Regions from separate parts of the Homo sapiens genome. Here all the other regions are linked to region 2. The links come from fine-mapping of genetic effects on gene expression. A gene starts in region 2. Each other region holds a variant in brackets. All regions are shown on one strand. Distances are from middle to middle. Region 1 overlaps AK8 (adenylate kinase 8). Region 2 holds the start of AK8 (adenylate kinase 8). Region 3 overlaps AK8 (adenylate kinase 8).

Evidence for each region.
Region 1: its variant is fine-mapped to the expression of AK8 in monocytes after LPS (Quach 2016, PIP 0.95).
Region 3: its variant is fine-mapped to the expression of AK8 in anterior cingulate cortex (GTEx, PIP above 0.99). The same link has a PIP of 0.9 or more in amygdala, spinal cord and substantia nigra.

Annotation. Positions count from the first base shown.
Region 1 is chr9:132,784,877-132,791,306 of GRCh38, reverse strand. The region is part of intron 11 of AK8 (adenylate kinase 8); the gene reads left to right. Among named protein-coding and RNA genes, the nearest start is that of AK8, 90 kb to the left of the region's middle. The variant A/G (reference allele first, on the strand shown) is at 3,173.
Region 2 is chr9:132,875,202-132,881,631 of GRCh38, reverse strand. AK8 (adenylate kinase 8) reads left to right here and starts at 3,348. Exons shown (of 13, transcript NM_152572.3): 1 at 3,348-3,460. The coding sequence starts at 3,377. SPACA9 (sperm acrosome associated 9) reads right to left here and starts at 2,734. Exons shown (of 4, transcript NM_001316897.2): 1 at 2,618-2,734.
Region 3 is chr9:132,815,295-132,821,724 of GRCh38, reverse strand. All of the region lies in intron 9 of AK8 (adenylate kinase 8), which reads left to right. Among named protein-coding and RNA genes, the nearest start is that of AK8, 60 kb to the left of the region's middle. The variant G/A (reference allele first, on the strand shown) is at 2,972.

The sequences.
Region 1 (6,430 bases), 90 kb after region 2:
TTCTCATGATAGTGAATGAGTTCTCACGAGATCTGATGGTTTTAAAGTGTGGCACCTCCCCCTTTGCTCTCTCTCTGTCTCTCTCCTGCTGCCATGTAAGATGTGCCTTGCTTCCCCTTTACCTTTTGCCATGACTGTAAGTTTCCTGAGGCCTCCCCAGCCATGTGGAACTGTGAATCAATTAAACCTCTTTCCTTTATAAATTACCCAGTCTCAAGTAGTTGTTTATAGCAGTGTGAAACGGACTAATACAATCCGTTACAGTTTGACATGGATATATTCTGTCTTTGCTTCTAGTGAAAATATCAACACTTCCTTGGGTCTCGCATTTTTTATTTTATTTCTAGGTATATTATCTCTTGTTCTTCTTACTGATATTATAATAAGATATTTTCATTCCATATTTTCTAAGGGGGTTTTTCAAGAGTATACAAAAGACATTGATTTTGGCTTACTTATTTTATACCCCAGCCACCTTCTCAAACCCTCTTACTGTTTTGGATAGTTTTTCAGTTGATTCTCTTGGGTTTTACAGGTAGATGACCATGTCATCTACAAATACTCATCCTTTTGCCTCTTCCTTTTCAATATTTATACTTTTCATTTTACTCTTGTTGGGCGGTACTTTCAGAACAGGGTGTCATGATCGACACGGTGGTTTTTCCTGACCATAAGGGCTGTCCTGGTACTGCTGACATTAAGGTGCTACTGGCTTTTGGTTTGAAGTGCATACAATTTGTATGAAGTTAAAGAAGTTGGCCGGGCACAGTGGCTCACGCCTGTAATCCCAGCACTTTGGGAGGCCGAGGTGGGTGGATCATGAGGTCAGGAGATCGAGACCATCCTGGCTAACATGGTGAAACCCGTCTCTACTAAAAAATACAAAAAATTAGCTGGACGTGGTGGCGGCCGCCTGTAGTCCCAGCTACTTGGGAGTCTGAGGCAGGAGAATGGTGTGAACCCAGGAGGCGGAGTTTGCAGTGAGCTGAGATCACGCCACTGCGCTCCAGCCTGAGCGACAGAGTGAGACTCCGTCTCAAAAAAAAAAAAAGAAGTATAGCTCCGTGATTTAAAATCTCTAGTTAATGTTTATCAAGAGCTTTTCAGCATCCTTTAAAATTGTTTTTCCTTTTTGACACATTGGTATTATAAATTATGTTAATATTAGTAAGCCAGTCTTTTGTTCCTATAGTAACTGGTTTGGTCATGGCATATTGTTCGTTCATGGAATATTATTCTACTGCTTGTGGCAGATAGAATTTTGACCCTTAGGACCTTTGCCCCCTGCTGTCATGCGTCTGAATATTACATTACATGACAAAAGGGACTTTGCAGATATACTTAAGATTACTAATCAGTTCACCTTAAAATAGAAAGGTCATCCTGGACTATCTGGGTGGGCCCAGAATAATCACACAAACCCTTAAAAGCAGAGTTTCCTCCTGACTGAGGGCAGAAGAGGAAGTCAGAGAGATTTCTAAGCATGACACAGCATTGGTGGCTCAAAGATGGGGGCCGTGGAAAATGTGAGAAGAAATGAATTCAACCAACAGTGAGCCCCAGGTGAGAACTACAGCTCTGGCTGATACCTTGACCTAAGCCCAGTTAGACCCATACCAGATTTCTGACCTACAGAAACTGGGAGATAATAAATTTGAGTATCTTTTTTTCTTTTCTTTCTTTCTTTTTTTTTTTTTTTTTTTTTTTTTGTGAGATGAGTATCACTCTGTCGCCCAGGCTGGAGTGCAGTGGCATGATCTCTGTTCACTGCAACCTCTGCCTCCCAAGTTCAAGTGATTCTCCTGCCTCCTCCTCCTGAGTAGCTGGGATTACAAGTGTGTGCCACCATGTATGGCTAATTTTTGTATTTTTATTAGAGACGGGTTTTACCATGTCGGCCAGGCTGGTCTCGAACTCCTGACCTCAGGTGATCCACCCATCTCAGCCTCCCAAAGTGCTTGGATTACAGGCATGAGCTACTGCACCTAGCCAAATTTGATTATCTTTTTTTTTGAGACAGAGTCTCGCTCTGTCTCCCAGGCTGGAGTGCATGGCGCGATCTTGGCTCACTGTAAGCTCTGCCTCCCGGGTTCACGCCATTCTCCTGCCTCAGCCTCCCAAGTAGCTGGGACTACAGGTGCCTGCCACCACGCCTGGCTAATTTTTTGTATTTTTAGTAGAGACGGGGTTTCACCGTGTTAGCCAGGATGGTCTCGATCTCCTGACTTTGTGATCCACCCACCTCGGCCTCCCAAAGTGCTGGGATTACAGGTGTGAGCCACCGCACCCAGTCCAAATTTGAGTATCTTTAAGCAGCTAAGTTTGTCATAATATGATATTGGCAGCACAAGGAAATTAACATGCTGTTGGATTGTATTGGCTACATTTTTTTTTGCATTAATATGCATCTATAATATGGATTAGAATTTTTCCACATTCTTGTGCTTTGTTAGGCTTTAGTATCAGTGATGTGAAAATTTCGTAGATTTTCTTTCTTTCTCCATATCTGAGAGAGTTTTTAAAACTCAGGCAGTAACTGTTTTTTTGGATCTGGCACTTTGGGGCAGAGGTAGCTTGTTAACAATTTGATTGATTTTGTTCAGGGTGTTTGGTCAATTCGAATTTCTCTCTTTTCTTGTGCAATTGGTCTCTTCTTAGAAAATCACCCCTTTCCCCTGTCTTTAAATATATTAACATAATTTGAATATCTTGTGCCACTAATTTTTATTGTGTTTCCTACAGTTTTGGCTTTATGTGTTTTGGTGCTATGTTATTTAGTGCATAAAGGTTTCTGTCAGCTATGTGTTCATTGTGAAATGTATTCTTGATGAAAGTGACCATCAGTGACAGACAGCTAATTATCTACCCCAACATTTATTCTAACTTTCCTCCTCAATAACAAAAGATCAATTTTCAGAGGAGTACTTTGGTGTCTGAAAATAAAAGATCCCATTTTCCAGTCTTCTTTACAGCTATATGGAGCCACAACACTAAGTTCTGGCTAATGAGATACAAGCATACAATTTTGTGGTTTTTCCAGGAAACCTGCTTTAAGGAATCTAACTCAGCTGGAAGGCGTTAGCTTTTTTTTGTTTTTCCTTTCCTTTCTTTTTGATTTTCCTGAAGTTAATAATCATCTTGCTTTTTCACTTGTCTAGTTTTCTTTGTACCT[A/G]TTAGTTAATTATTTCCACATCTCATAATAGCCTTTCAGAACAATTTCCCACAAAGTCCATCATATTGTGTAATCTGTCAGTTTCAGGTTGTTGTTTTTTTTTTGGTCACTCCCATTCCTCTTCTGTTTGGACTGGTTTTTTTCTAGGCTTACTGCATAGTTGATCATCAGGGGCTTTTCTTTACTATAATCAGAGGAATTCCCCTTGGCTTTCTTTTGAGTTGGAGTCTCTACTTCCTGAGTTACACATCTTCCTTTTATATACCCCCTTGATTTGACAAAGCATAACCTCTAGTTGCTTCCCAAGTTAAAAAGATGATTTAAAAGCAGTGGACTGTTACACCGGAAACACATGTGTTCTAAATTGAAGAAGTCACCCTTTATGCCTGTACACAACAATCATTTTGGGATTGCCTTTCACTACTACACTGAAGATTCTCTTTACCCCTCTCCCATATTCGATATTTTATTTCTATATCACATGGCTTCCTTTTTCTTGGTTTACTACCTTGTTTTGGTTGAACACATCTATCAGTAACTTCCTGAGAAACAGTGTATGGGAGGTAAATTTTGGGGGCCCTACTATTCTATCTGAAAGTGTCTATTCTATCTTCATACTTGTTGGATAGATTGGCTGGGTGAGAAACTATAGGCTGGAAATGATTTTCCCGTGGAATTTTGAATTTCCAGTGTTGCTAAGAAGTCCAATGCCAATCTGATCCTGAGCCTTCATACGTGACTTTTTTCTTTCTGTGGAAGTTTGTAGGCTCTTCCTTTTGTCTCCAGGGTTCTGAAATTTCACAGTGAAATTTCATTATATCCTTGGTATAGGTCAGATTTACTCCACCGTACCAGAAATTAATCTTGAAACCTGTGTCCTTCAGTCCTGGGACATTTTCTTGAATTATTTTGTTAATGATTTTTTCCCCTTTTTTCTATTCTCTCTGAAACTGCTGTTATTTGGGTATTGGATCTTCAGGACTGGGCTTCTAAATGTTGTAAAAATATCTTTTTTCCCTTGTATTTTGTGTGTATGTGTGTGTGTGGTCAGTTGCTGCTTTTTGTTTTGTTTGGCTCTACTTTCTGGGAGATTTCCTCAACTTTCTCTTCCAACATTTTTATTGAATTCTAATTTCTGCTCTTGGGTTTGTTTATTTCTGTAATATTCAAGAGCTTTTTGTTTTCTGAATATTCCTTTTATAGTTTCTTGATCTTATTTCATGGTTTTTTTATCTCTTGAAAATGTTAATGACATATTTGATTTTGTTAGGAGGATGGGGAGATAGGCTTTTTTCCTTTTCCTTTCTGCATAACCAGTTTCTATTGAATTTTTGTTTGTCTTGGTCTTATTCTTTCTCAGCAGAGTCTTTTTTTACCCTTAGATGTTGAATTACCCTTGGTTGTTTGCTCACGTCTAAGAATGGGAGACTAAAAAGCGATTTGGAAGCTCTGAGTGCATGGAAAGAGCCCACAGGTTTAGTCTTCACTGTAGGGTGGTATCATTGGGGTGATAAAATTGGGCCATTTGTGCAGAACCCTCCCACCAAGTGTCAACATCTTTAGATCTTTTCCTCTGGGCTGCTCCGATTCCCCAGAGAGGACTCATGCAGTCTCCTGCTGGAGGGTAAAGGCCTTGCTGCCAGGACCCCCTCTCTGGGGGTCCAGGGGAGAAGCAGGACACTGGGAAGGGCAGGGGAGGGGTCTCACATACTGCATGCAGTTTGCATACTTTTACTTAATTCCCCTGTGTTTACCATAGACTCAGGCTCTCAACTGTGCTTGGCATTCTTCAGCCCAAAGAGCCTGTATTTTATCCTCTCTAGAGAATAAATGTTTAATTTCTTCCCAAGTGGAGGAGAGACATTCACTCAGCTGGGTGGAGTGAGGAAGGGATCTAGGACTCACTCTCTTCTGAAACAAATTTCAACCAAGCCCCCTTATTTTAGCCACCAGTTCCCAGGTGGCACCTGTGCCTGAGCCTTTTGAGGATTTTCTGGGGAAGATGAGGTTGATTCTCAGCTTTCCTACTACTGATTTAGGATTTGGCTTTCTGAGGCCGCCTCAGCTCGTTGCCTCTGGTTCAAGTCTGCTTTCCAGCATCGAAACCTTTGTCTGATTGCCTTCTTCTTCCCTGTTCTTTCTGTCCTTGTAGGTTAGGTTTTCAAAGTGCCTTTCCTATCGTTTTTCTGTGGGATTTGGGGAAGAAACAAAATCTGGTGCGGGTTTCAAGAAGCCATTTTTATCTGGAATTCAAACTCTGATTTCTTTGTTACATTTGCATGTTCCTAAGTTTTACTTTCAACTATTTTGCTTCTCTTATTTTTTGTTGATGACACAACTAAAAAGCTATATGGAAGCTCTGGATGCATGGGTGGAGCCCGTAGATGTTGTCTTCACTGTGGACAGAATGAAATTGGGTTTGATATTTTTTCTTCAATCTGAAATGACTTTTTCCTTGAATAGTTGAGTCTATCCCACTTATTTTTGCTTTTCTTACTTTATTTTGTGCTTCATTATGGTTTCCTTTGTTTTCCATCTTTTCTTTATGGGATGTGTTTTGAGTTTTGTTCTTGTTATTGTTAGCTTCTTACCTGCCCCACTTCCGTTAATTTAGAAGATAATCTGTTTATAGTTCTAATAGTCTCTTCAACACGACTTGATTAAACCTTATTTCTCAGTTTGTTGATTTTGAAATGCAGCAGAATATCTTGACCCCTTCATATGAAAGATGTCGGTTGGGCGTGGTGGCTCACGCCTGTAATCCCAGCACTTTGGGAGGCCGAGGCAGGTGGATCACGAGGTCCAGAGTTCAAGACCTGCCTGGACAATATGGTGGAACCCTGTCTCTACTAAAAATACAAAAATTAGCCGGGCATGGTGGTGGGCGCCTGTAGTCCCAGCTACTCAGGAGGCTGAGGCAGGGAACTGCTTGAACCCGGGAGGCAGAGGTTGCAGTGAGCCGAGAGCACGCCACTGCATTCCAGCCTGGGCGACAGAGCAAGACTCCATCTAAAAAAAAAAAAAAAAAAAGAGTATCCCACATGTACTGCCTCCTCATCCCCCTTCTCCAGCCATTCTCCATTTTGGGGGAGCCAGGGACAGACATATCCTGAAATTTTTCTGTGCCAGTCTATTATACACAGATTATTGTTTTTAATCAGTATTGATTAAGCTTTTCTTTCTAGAAATATAACAATTATATTCTGTTTTTAACTATAATTACTATACTTACAAAGTTTTTATTCTCTTTAAAACTGG
Region 2 (6,430 bases):
ACTACACCTGGCTATTTTTTGTATTTTTAGTAGAGATGGAATTTCACCACGTCAGCTAGGCTGGTCTTGAACTCCTGGCCTCAAGTGATCTCCCTTTCTCAGCCTCCGAAAGTGCTGGGATGATAGGCATGAGCCACTGTACCCAGCCCCAAAAACGTTTTTTAAAGAATGGGTCTTGCTCTTTCACCCAGGCTGGAGTGTGGTGCTGTGATCACGACTCACTGCAATCTTGACCTCCTGGGCTCAAGTGATCCTCCCGCCTCAGCCTCTTGAGTAGCTGGGACCTCAGGTATGTGCCACCATGCCTGACTACCTTTTTTCTTTTTTTTTTTTTCTTCTTTTTTTTCTTTTTTTTTTTTCTTTTTTTTTGTAGAGATGGGGTCTCCCTATGTTGCTCAGGCTGGTCTCGAACTCCTGGGCTCCAGCGATCCTCCCACCTCAGCCTCCCAATGTGCTGGGATTAGAAGCATGAGCTGGCAACATCAGAATTTGTAAAGAAAAGATTGCTGGCTGGGCGCGGTAGCTCACGCCTGTAATCCCAGCACTTTGGGAGGCCGAGGTGGGTGGATCACGAAGTCAGGAGATTGAGACCATCCTGGCCAACACGGTGAAACCCTGTCTGTAATAAAAATACAAAAAAAGTTAGCCGGGCACGGTGGCGGGCGCCTGTAGTCCCAGCTACTCGGGAGGCTGAGGCAGGAGAATGGCGTGAACCTGGGAGGCGGAGCTTGCAGTGAGCCGAGATGGCGCCACTGCACTCCAGCCTGGGCGACAGAGCAAGACTCCATCTCAAAAAAAAAAAAAAAAAAGATAGCTGCACCTTGCCATACTGAGGCCTGAGGCAAAAGGAGAAATCAGTAACACTGAGCCTACCTTTACTTAAATTTTTGACATGTTATTCTAAATGGATTTTAGGCAGCATTATTTTTGATTTTTAAAATATATTGCATTAAAACGTGAAAAACATCCACCTCAATGATTGAATTGCCGGCACTCCCTTAAGTTTTGTGCTGAGGGTGCATCACTTGCCTTGCCCTAATGTTGGCCCAGGGCTTACAAATGACTCAAAGGTGAAGCTCCAGAAAAGTGAGAGAGAGCACATAGGTGGAGTTCCAGGGAGAAAGGGCGTGTGCCCTTTCGGCCTGGCTTTTCCCTCATCATGGTGGGAGCTGTGGTTGGTAGTGGTTGAGAGGAACTGACTCTGTTCTTGATCCTAGCAACTTGTGACATGCACGCCAGGAATGTCATGAGAGGAGCTGTAATAAGCTATCCGAAGTGATCGTCCCTTGAACGAGAGCCACTGCAGCCAAATTAGTGTGGATGAAGGGCACAGGGGACGGGCACTTCTCGATCTGGGGGAGGAGGGAGGAAAAAAATGATTACCCATAGGTTTTAGGCTTTAATTGATTTGTATTTTTCCAGGCTGCTAAAGAAGATTGAATCATGGTAGGAAAAGCGCCTAGGGCTTAAAATAAATGAGGAGAAAGGCAAGTCATTTCAGAAATGTCCAGGAAGCAAAACAAACCTCTCCAGTGCAAATGGCAGGCATGGCTGTTGTGTTCTTTGCTCAGGGGGAGGCAGCTTCCTTTTCTTCCCCAGCTATCTTTACAGTTGGGTTTGACAAGCCTACCAAGGTGTACACACTTTGAGGAAGCGGTTTGGAGGGGAAGAGGCAACAGTGCTGGCTTTTACGTTGGGAGGGCATGTCTCTGGGCTGATGGCTGGTAGAAAAGGGCTTTAGCTGGAGCCTGGATGCAGAGTTCATGCCCTGGCTCTGCCCAATCTAACCAGTGGCCCTAGCCAAGATTTCCCCCTTTTCTGGGCCTCAGTTTATCCATCTGTCAAATGAGAGAGTTTGGATTAGCCTCTTCTTCAAGAGGCCTTCTGGTTCTAAGGCTGTATGATCAACAACTGATGAGAAAAGAAGCCCAGAAAGGGGAAGTGACTCACCCAAAGTTACCCAGCCAACCACTCCTCATTGTTCTAATCCTCCAACTTCTCATCTGTAAAATGGGAATGAAGGTGCCTATTTCACAGGATTGTTGGAACGATTAAATGAGATACTACTACTAATAGTAGCCCCATATATTGTGTGCTTACTGCATGCCAATTACTCTCCAATACATTAGCTCCTGAAATCCTTCAGCAGTTCCCTCTTCACAGGGCAGGAAAGTGAGGCACGGAGCAAGCAGAGAGTTTGCCAAGCTCACACAGTAAGAAGCGGAGCCAGAACTTGAAGCTGGGGCTGTCTGCATTGACTGTGCCATTTTCCCTCTCCATAAGGTACAGAGACAACAGAATTTTGCCGAGAGCACAAAGAGTTCAACAAACTCTTACAGCTCCTACGATTAACGGCAACAGACAAGAGCTAGAGATCCCAATTCAGTGTTGCGACTAATAAAATATCAAGCTGCCCCGTACCACTGGGAATTCATACGACTTAAAAAGCTCCGTCTCCAGCGCGAACCTTCCCCTCGCCCCCACCCCGAGACAGCTGTGCAGGCCCCTCCATCCTCCGGACCCCTCCATCTTTCCATCCTCCACCCCAGCTTCCAGTTTCTGACCCAGAGGCCGGGGTGGGGTCCGAGTGGGCCCACCCACACTCATCCCTGTTTACCCTTGCTTGTCCTAGAGCGCTCTTCGCTCCACGGAGCACCCAGAGAAGTTGGAGTGACTCCGTGAGTGTCGGTGCCCCGGAGGGTGGGGAGGCCCGTTCCAGGACTTGGGAGGCGAGGGTGGGTGGGGACGTCGGGCGAGAAGGGGCGGGGCCGCGGGCGTGATTGTTACCGCCGGTGCCATAGCAATCGGGTCACTTGGCGGCTTGGCCAGAGCCGGGGAGCTGGGAGGGGTCTACCGGGGCTCGACTCTAGGAGTTGGGCTGAGGATTTCCACCCGATCCTCGAACCTCCGGCCCATCTCATGGACGCCCCTCCCCCTTCAAACACCCTCCCCCACATTTATTCCCGCGTCTGTTTTAAAGATGGGTAAACTGAGGCACAGGGAGCCGGGCCGGGGAGCACTGACAGAACCAGAAGCAGGTTCTGCCTCCCGTCCCCTCGGAGGGCCGACTTGCCCCTTCTGGGTTTCGTCGGGGGTCTCAGATACGAGGAGGCCCAGCTGGAAGCCACCTGAGGGTGTCCCCCGCTAAGATGCGCAAATGGGAAAAGCGAGGCCGGGGTTGGGGAAAGAACTTGCCCGAGCCGCAGAGCGCGTCAGCCGGGGAGGTCGGGGCGGGGGCGACCCGCGCGACCGAGGATCGGGTATCTGGGCCCGGCGCGGAGCCTGCAGGGCGGGGCCGCGGCGCGTGCTGATGACGCAGTCGGCGCGGCGGCCCTAGCGACGCGGTTACTAGGGAGCGGCGAGCCGAGACGGCTACATGGACGCCACTATCGCCCCGCACCGTATCCCCCCCGAGATGCCCCAGTACGGGGAGGAGAACCACATCTTCGAGTTGATGCAGGTGACCGGACACCCCTGCCCGTCGCGACGCTGGCGGCGGCTCGGGAGCCTCCACTGCGACGTCGGGTGCGCGGCCGGGACCCGCAGCTGGGGCCGAGTCGCGCGCCCACGAAGCAGCCCAACTCGGGATGTACGATTCGTGTGTCGCCGTGACCCCGAGGGGGCCCTCGAGCTGGGGACGCTCCTGGTCCTGCCCGGGTTTGCCTCAGGCGGACCCAGGGGGAGGAAGGGGGCCACTCGAGCCGGGATTTGGTCCTGGCTGTGCCGCCAGCGGGCCTTATGGTCTGGAACCAGTCCTTTCCTTTTCTCGGTTTCCCCACCTGTGAAATGCCAGGTTGCAAGAGGTGGTCTCCCAGGGGCTCTCCCGGCGCTGACAATTACCATCTGTCGAATTTGTGGGGAGCCTCTCGGCCCAGGTTTCTGAGGTGGGCATTGTCCGAGTTCAAGCTGGCATCTCCATCCTCAGAGAGGGCCGCCTCTGGGACAGCAGCATCTCCCACCTTGGTCCCTCCTCCTCAGGGCCAGACGTCCCCGGCAGCTCCGAAGCTCTCATTCTGGCTCCAGGCCTGACTGGGCCCCCAGCTCACCGTGTGACTTTGGGCGAGGCCCCGTCCCCGCCAGGGCCCCAGTTTTCCCTTTTGCACGTGGTGGAGGTCAAGGCTTTCAGGAGCTGGAGGGGAAGAACTCTCAGCCACTCAAAGGTTCTGAGAGGCAAGGGGAAGCTGGAGCTCAGTTTTCAGATCATTTGTCTGCTTCCCAGGGTACACCCCATCCCCAGGGGCATGGCATGGAGGGCATAGTGGTGTCTGTGGTCATTTGAGGTTCTGCCCTGCACACTAGACAGCTGAGCCCAGACGAAGAAACCCGTGTCTGCACCTCCATCAAACACATTTCCCTCGGAAAGTGTTAACTGATAGAGGGAGAGCAAGAGATTCCTAAAACTGCTTGAGTGGCCAATCACAAATCAAATAGCTAGCTGGGTTAGAAGTCAGCAGGTCAGGGCAGGATGGGGGATCATCTGGAGCCCTGTTGTCTGCTCTAGAGAACCTGGTGTGTTTTCCACATTGATTGTTGGAGGAATTGCCCAGGAAAGCTTTTATTGATTTTGAAACAGGGTCTTGCACTGCTGCCCAGGCTGGAGTGCAGTGATACAATCATGGCTTACTGCAGCCTTGAACTCCTGGGCTCAAGCAATCCTTCTGCCTTAGTCCCTCCAGAGTAGCCGAGACTACAGGTGCAGGCCACCATACCTGGCTAATGTTTTTTTTTTAATTTTAGTACAGACGAGGTCTTGCTATGTTGCCCGGACTGGTCTTGAACTCCTGGGCTCAAACAGTCCTTCTGCCTCGGCCTCCCAACAAGAAAGCTTTCAGTCCAGTATTTCCAGTCCTTAGTCATCTGTGGATTCCCTCCATGTTTTTGACCATTTCCATTTTTTATACTTTTGATTTTAAAATAATGTTAGATTCACAGGAAGTTAAAAAATAGTATGGATTTCTGGTCTCCCCTCCCACATTGCCCCCGTGATAACATCTAACATAACTGTAGCACATTGTCAAAACCAGGAAACTGGCATTGGTACAATAGGATTACCTGAACTGTAGGCCTTGTTTGGATTTCCTCCATTTTTACCTGCATTGATGTTTTTGTTGTGCATACAGTTCTGTGCAGTTGTATCACATGTACAGATTTGCATAACCGCTACTGCACCTCCATTTAAACTAATCACTTGTTTAAATCAACTCACCTTTTAAAAAATTAAATAGCCGCTTTTGCCTCATCCTAAGTGATATCCTTGAAATTATTGATTTGATGTACTTATATTTCTAATACACGTTAAATACACAATGATTTAAACATGAAATGTAAAATATTTATGTGTGAACCATCTAAAATCATCTCATTCCATCATCGCACCAGTGACATACAAACATGAATTCACTCCAGCTGTGCTACTGAACAGGCAGAGAAGCTGAGGCCCAGAGAAGGGAAGGGACTTGCTGATGAGATACAGTGGGGCTGGAACCAAGACTTCTCATGGCTCGGTGCTCTTTCCCTGCCCCACACTCCCTTCACTCCAAGAGGGCTACAGCCCCTCCCTCCTTGTCCCTGGGGCTCAAGGATACCCCTTATTGCAGCAGCACAGCTGCTATGAGCTCCTCCTCATTTCTCTGCCTAGGGTTCTGCAACCCCAGAAGCTGCTTTCTCTTGATATGCTTGCCTGATTGGATGAAATGGCCAGAATATCCCAGGACTATTTAGAAATCTGGCTGGTAACATTCTGTTCCATTCTGGAGAGACACAGTTAGTGGTGACGGTCATGTTCCCCAGCAAACATCTGCGCTGGGCATCTGCTATGACTGCCAGGTATTGGGGTGCCAAGGGCTCTAGGCAGACAAGGAGGCCCACAGAACCCATGGCCTGCCGGGGGGATGGTGGCCTGGTGAGTAGGGACAGGGTGAGGCGTGGAACAGGGCGATGCCCGCAGGCAGGTGCAGGAGCATCTGACATATTTACGTAGTGCACATACTCAGGAAGGTATGTTCCCATTGAGATCTGAGACTGAGCAGAAGTTAGCCAGGATGAGGACAAGGCAGAAGCTTCCAAGCTGAGGGAACAGCATCTGCTAAGGCTCTGAGGGGAATGGTGATGCTTGAGAACTTGGAGAAGGCTGGTCTGGGAAGCTCAAAGGGCCCCAGGGGAGAGAGCCCTGGACTGCCTGCTCTGAATCAGGGGCGAGACTCCTCCACTTCTGCCTCCCCATAGGTGCCTCCGCAGCAGCACCACGTGGCCCCCCTCATGCCTCTGCTCATGGGGACCCAAGCAGATGCCAGCTGGGGCGGTGGCTGGGTCCCAGGTTGAAGGCATGTTTGGTGGGGTGCAGTGGAGAGAGCAGGCCCCATAGCTGGTATCTGTGGTGACCAGGTGCCCTTGCAGGTATTAACCACCTGGGTGTCTGCCCTGCACCCAC
Region 3 (6,430 bases), 60 kb after region 2:
ATATACATACAAATGTACGTGTATATATATGTATATGCATACAAATATATGTATATACCACCCCAGAAGAATCAAGTTTTGAATAAAAATGCTTCTCAGGCCTCCTCCAGCTTACAATTCTAAAGCCACTGAGACCAGCAAGGAATCCATGACAAAAGTCACACACCTAAAATGAAGATAGAGACCTGAACAATTACTCTGCAAATTTGATTACTATGGAAAATTAATCAGGACATTTAGAATAAAAAATGTTCCTGAGTCCGTTTTTAAAAATAAATTATTTCAATAATTCCTTCTTCTTTTGATTGTTCCTCTTAAGAGAATTATAAGATGAAATTTCCAGCAGTGTTAGGGATGGCTTCTTTGTTCCGATGACCAGCAGTCTACCTGTGGCGGCATCACTTGCTTACGTAAGCATGTGCCCACATCGTTACGGGAAGGGACAGAGTGAGCGTGGAGGGGCACTCGCGGTGGAGGGAGAGTCTGAAAACACGGCAGCAATACTTTAATGCAGTGCAGGGCTTTATGGAAATAATTGTCTCGGTGCTCTGTTTTATGATGCAGACACTCTCATTCAATAAAAGGTTTTTTTTTTTTAATTCAAATTGCGTTCAGCACACCAGCCATGAAGAGATGAAATTACCTGCCTAGATTTTTCCAAAAATGAAAATAGAAAAGCTCATCATGGTTTTTGCTTGTTACCTAAGAGCCATGATGGGGCTCTTTTAGATAATTAAGCATTTGGAGACTATCTCAGAAAGTTCACATTTCTCAAAGGTGTTCTTGATAAATACAAGATGTCATGAGATTTAAGTAAACCCATTTAAGAGACCTAAGGCAGGTAGCCTTGAGATCTCTCTGCAAATGCGTGTCTGAACCCAGAGCTCCAGGTGCTGTCTGCTCCGCTGCGGCCATCCGCTCGCCTGGTTCTAATCTTCACATCTGTGAATCTCTCAGCCAAAGGAAAATATCTCCAAACCAACAAAAAAACAGACAGCCCCCACACTCACTCCCACAAAGTTCATCAGAAGACCTCACTTAGGATGATGGGAGTATATACGGACACGACTTTCTGAAAGGCGAAAGCCACTGTTGGTTAAAGCACTAACTGCGCAAACCCTGTGACCCTGGGATTTAACTCCTAGGAGTTTATTCTGCTCCAACACTCAGATATGTAAGGAGAGATGTGGCAGAAGCATAATGAGAAACAGAGGCAACCTCTAACTCTGTTAATAAGCAGGTTTGTGAAATAAGTTGTGATAAACCCATGTAATGGATTGCGAGGCAGCTGTTAAAAATAAACCTGTAAAGTGATTTGATGTCAGTGATACATGGCTAAATAAGGGAGGGGCAGAAAACAATTTGCTCAGCAGTATCCAGGGGGTGACCTCATTTTTGTTCAAAAAAGCATGTTAGTTTATGCTCAGAAAAAGCATGAAGAAATATCCATACACCAAACTGCTTATCTCGGCAGAGCTGTGGATTATACAATTCAGATTTTTTTTTTTTTTTACAGTGAGCATGAATTCTTTCCTTCCTTCCTTCCTTCCTTCCCTTTGTCTTTTTTTTTTTTTTTTTTTCGGGTCTTACTCTGTCACCCAGGCTGGAATGCAGTGGTGCAGTCATGGCTCACTGCAGCCTCCAACTCCTCAAGTGATCCTCCCGCCTCAGCCTCCCAAGTAGCTGGGACTACAGGTGTATGCCACCATGCTCAGCTAATTTTTTTTTGTAAAGACGGGAATCTCTCTATGTTGCCCAGTCTGGTCTCAAATTCTTGGCCTGAAGCAATCCTCCCACCTCAGCCTCTGGTTTCTTTTTTGACTTGTGTACTATTTAGAATACACCTTGCTTAATTCCCACATATTTGGGGATTTTCCTGATTGCTTTATAGTCTTGATTTCTAATTTAATTCTATTGTGGTAAAAGAACATACCCTATGTGATTTTGATCCTTTGAAATTTGCATATATGGTCTATACTGGTGAATTCCAAGTGTACTTAAAAAAATAGGTATTCTGCATTGTTGGTTATAGTGTTCTATAATATCGATTAGGATAAGATGTTTGAAATTTTTAATCAAATTTTGAAATTCGTCTATGTCCTTAATGATTCTCACTCTACTTATTATGTCAGTTATTGAGAGAGGTGTGTTAAACTCTCCCAACTCTTTTATTTTTAATTTTTTACAATCATCCAGCCCAACATTTAAAAAATCTCCCAACTCTGAATTGTGGATTTGTCTATTCTCTGCAAGTTTTTGCTTCATGTAATTTGTCATTAAGTGCATACTGTCACACCTCAGTATCCATGGGGGATTGGTTCTAGGACCTCCCTTGGATACTGAAATCCGAGGATGTTCCAGTCTCTGATACAAAATGGCGTAGTATTTGCATATAACCTACATACATTCTCCTATACACTTTAAATCATCTCTAGATTACTTATAATACCTAATATAATGTAAATGCTATGCAACAGTTGTTATACTGTATTGTTTAGGGAATACTGACAAGGAAAAAAGACTACATGTTCAGTGCAGACGTAATTTTTACCCCAGATATTTTCAATCTGTGGTTGGTTGAATCCATGAGTGTAGAAACTATGGATATGGAGGGCTGACTGTATACAGTAAGGATAGTTATATGTTATTGGTGAAATGACCCTTTTATTGCTAGGAAATGTTGCTTTTCCTCTCTAGCAATACTCATTTTCTTGAAGTCCACTTTGTCTGATGTTAATGAAGTTTCTCTAACTTTCTTATGATTTGTGTCTGTATGATATACCTTCTATTCTTTTTCTTTTAAACTATCTGTGTCTTATAGTCTAACTATGTGTCTTGTAAACAGCATATAGTTGGGTCTCACTTTTTTTTTTTTAAGAGACGGGGTCTTGCTCTGTTGCCCTGGCTGGAGTACAGTGGTGCAATCATAGCTCGTTGCACCCTCAAACTCCTGGGCTCAAGTGAACCTCCC[G/A]CCTCGGCCTCCCACTGAAGTTACAGGCATGAGCCCTCAAGCCTGGCCTGTTTTTTTGTTTTGTTTTGTTTTCTACTTGTGTCATCTGTTCTTTGTTCCTCCTTTCCTGCCACCTTTTGGATTAACCAAGTATTTTTTAGTAATCCATTTTCTTTCTTCTATTTCCTTTTTAGCCATATCTCTTTGCTTTATTTTGTTAGTGGTTGCTCTAGGGATTAAATATGCATCTTTTGCTTGTCCCAGCCTATTTTGAGTGAATGTTACACCTCACCATGTATGATATCAGAGCCTCGCAGCAGTAGATTTTTCCATTTACCTTACTTCTTTACAGTTGACATACATTTTACTTCTGCGTATGTTATAAACCCTACAATATATTGTAATTATTTTTGTTTTAAATAGTCATTCATCTTTTAAAGAAGTGAAGATATAAGGGGGGAGAGACTTTTATATGTACCCACCTATCAGTACTCTTCACTCCTTGGTTTAGATCCAGGTTTCCATCTGGTATCATTTCCTCTCAGCCTGAAGAACTTCCTTTAACAGCTCTTGTAGTGAAAGTGTGCTGGTGACAAATTTTCTCAGCTTTCATAGCCTGAAAATGATATGATTTCATCTTCATTTTTGAAGGATGTTTTGGCTGCATATAGAAATCTATGTTGACAGTTTCTTTCTCTTAACACTTTAAAGATGTCATTCTATTGTCTTCCGGCTTGCACTTCTTCTGATGAAATCTCAGAGGTTATTTTTACCATTGTTGCCCTGCATGTGAAGCACTCCCCCTGCCCTCAGCTGCTGTTAATATTTTCTCTTTAGCTTTCAGCAATTTGACTACGATGTATCGAAGTGTGACTTACTTTGTGTTTGTTCTGCTTGGATCTCAGAGATTCTTGGGTGTGTGGGCTGAAATTTTTAATCAAATTTTGAAGTTCTCCTGTCATTATCTTCTGAAATCTTTTTTCTGCCTGCCTCTCTTCTTTCTGGAACTACAGTTCCACATATGTTAGACTGTCTGGTATTGTCCTCTAGGTCTCTTAGATTTGGTTCTTTTCTTCCGGTCCTTTCCCATCCCCCTCTTTGCTGCAGTTTGGCTACTTCCTATTGCCTCTTTTATCCTGTCTTTAAATTCACTGATTGCAGCACACCTAGTGATTTGTTTCATTTAAGATACTGTATTTTCCAGGTCCAGAATTTCCATCTGGTTCTTTTTCACAGTTTTCCTTTCTCTGCTGAGATTCTCCATCTGTTCACTCATTTTAACTATCTTTTCCTTTAAGGTTTTAAGTGTACTCATAATAGCTGTTTTAAAGTCCTGGTGTGCTGATTCTGACATGTGTGTCATCCCCGATCTGATTCTCTGGCCTGTTTTCTCTCCTCATAGGAGTCACATTTTCCTGCTTTTTTGCATGTCAAGGAGCTTTTGATTAAATGCTAGACATTGTGTTTCTCACATTTTTGAAGGTCTGGATTGTGTCACCATTCTGCTTTAAGAGTATTGAGTTTGGAGGATTAACTCCATCCTACTGAAGCTTATTTTCAGGCTTTGTTAAGTGGGAGTAGAGTGTTCTTACTCTAGGGCTAGAGTATCCCTGCAGCTAAGGTCTGCCCTTTCTGGAATCTCAGCTGAATGTCCGGGGTGTTCAGCAGGGTCTGTCACTTTGGTTGTCAGAATGCCAGCATCTCCCAGCCCTGTGTGAATTTCCATTCAGTTCACAGCTTCCCAGTAGCTTTTCTCTACCAGGCCTCTGGAGTCTCACCCTGCACATGTGCAGCTTCATATTGGCCAAAGGCTCAGTGAACCCCTATGAGATTTCTGGAACTCCTTCTGTGCACAGCTGCCTCCTCTCCCTTACCCTGTTCTACAAATTCTGGCCGTCTCAGAGCTCCAGTCTTTGTTGCTTCCACCCAGTGAGACTGCTGATCTGTTTGGGCTCCACTTCTCCTGTGCCATGATTTGAGAAGTGCCCATAGGTAGAAATCCAGGATGACTATGGGGCTCGTTTTGTATGTTTCCTGCCTCTCAAGGATTACAGACCTGTCTCTCTGTTGTCCAATGACTCTAAAGAATTGCTTCATAGATTTTGTTCAGTTTCACAGCTTTCTATAAGAGAAGTTAAATATGATACCTGTTACTCCTTCATGGCCAGAACTGGAAGCTAAGCATGGGTTTGATGTCACGCAGACCTGGGTTTGGACCCCAGCTCTGCCCCTTAATGGCTCTGTGACCTAAAGCAGGTTATTTCATCTCTTTGAGCCTCAGTGTCTTTACCTAAGAAACAGCAGGTTATTGTGAGGACCAAATAAAACAAAGCACACTTAGCACAGTGCTTGGCACACAGAATTGTCTCAGTTCTCAGCAGCTTTTTTTTTCTTTTCTTTCTTTTTCTTTTTTTTTTTTTGAGACAAAGTCTCCCTCTGTCACCCAGGCTGGAGTGTAGTGGTGCCAATCTCTGCTCACTACAACCTCCGCCTCCTGGGCTCAAGCAATTCTCCTGCCTCAGCCTCCCAAGTAGCTGGGATTACAGGCTTCCACCACCACACTGGGCTAATTTTTGTATTTTTAGTAGAGACGGAGTTTCACCATATTGGCCAGGCTGGTTTCAAGCTCCTGACCTCAAATGATCCTCCCGCCTTGGCCTCCCAAAGTCCTGGGATTACAGGCATGAGCCACTGCGCCTAGCTCCCAGCAGCCTTTATTCTCACTTATATGTCCTTTGCTGGTGAGGCTGCCAAGCACATTGGATTAAATTAAATGACAACTGCTGTCATTTACATAGTGAATTAAGCATATCATTATTGAGGAATGAATCCCTGGTGATGGTAATTTTGTTAAACATTCATGCTATCCAGTTAACTTTAGGATGTTTTTTGGTCTCCTTAGTATAGGCAGAAAACTTCTTAGCCCTAAAGGTAAGAAAGCCAAAAGCGTGCAGTGAACAATTCATGAAAATATAGTTTAAATCTTCTGGCTTTGGCTAGGAAGGACTTTCACAGCCAAGGAGGAGGTAGCCTGTGTTTATTCACTCATGCTTGTTGCCCAGCACCTCCTTTGTGCCGGCCCTAGCTCAGGGCTCGAGACACAGTGGGGCCAGAGGCAGGTTCCTGCCCAGGGCGAGCAGGTGTCCAGAGCGGGGCAGCCGCCACTGGCCAGGTGACTGCAGCGTGGTACCTTTTTTTCTTTTTCTTTTTCTTTTTTTTTTTGAAACGGAGTCTTGCTCTGTTGCCCAGACTGGAGCGCAGTGACGCGATCTTGGCTCGCTGCAACCTCCACCTCCCAGGTTCAAGTGATTCTCCTGCCTCAGCCTCCCCAGTAGCTGGGATTACAGGTATATGCCACCCACCTGGCTAATTTTTGTATTTTTAGTAGAAACGGATTTTCACCATGTTGGCCAGGCTGGTCTTGAACTCCTGATCTTAAGTGATCTGCCCGCCTCAGCCAAAAAGCTGGGATTACAGCCA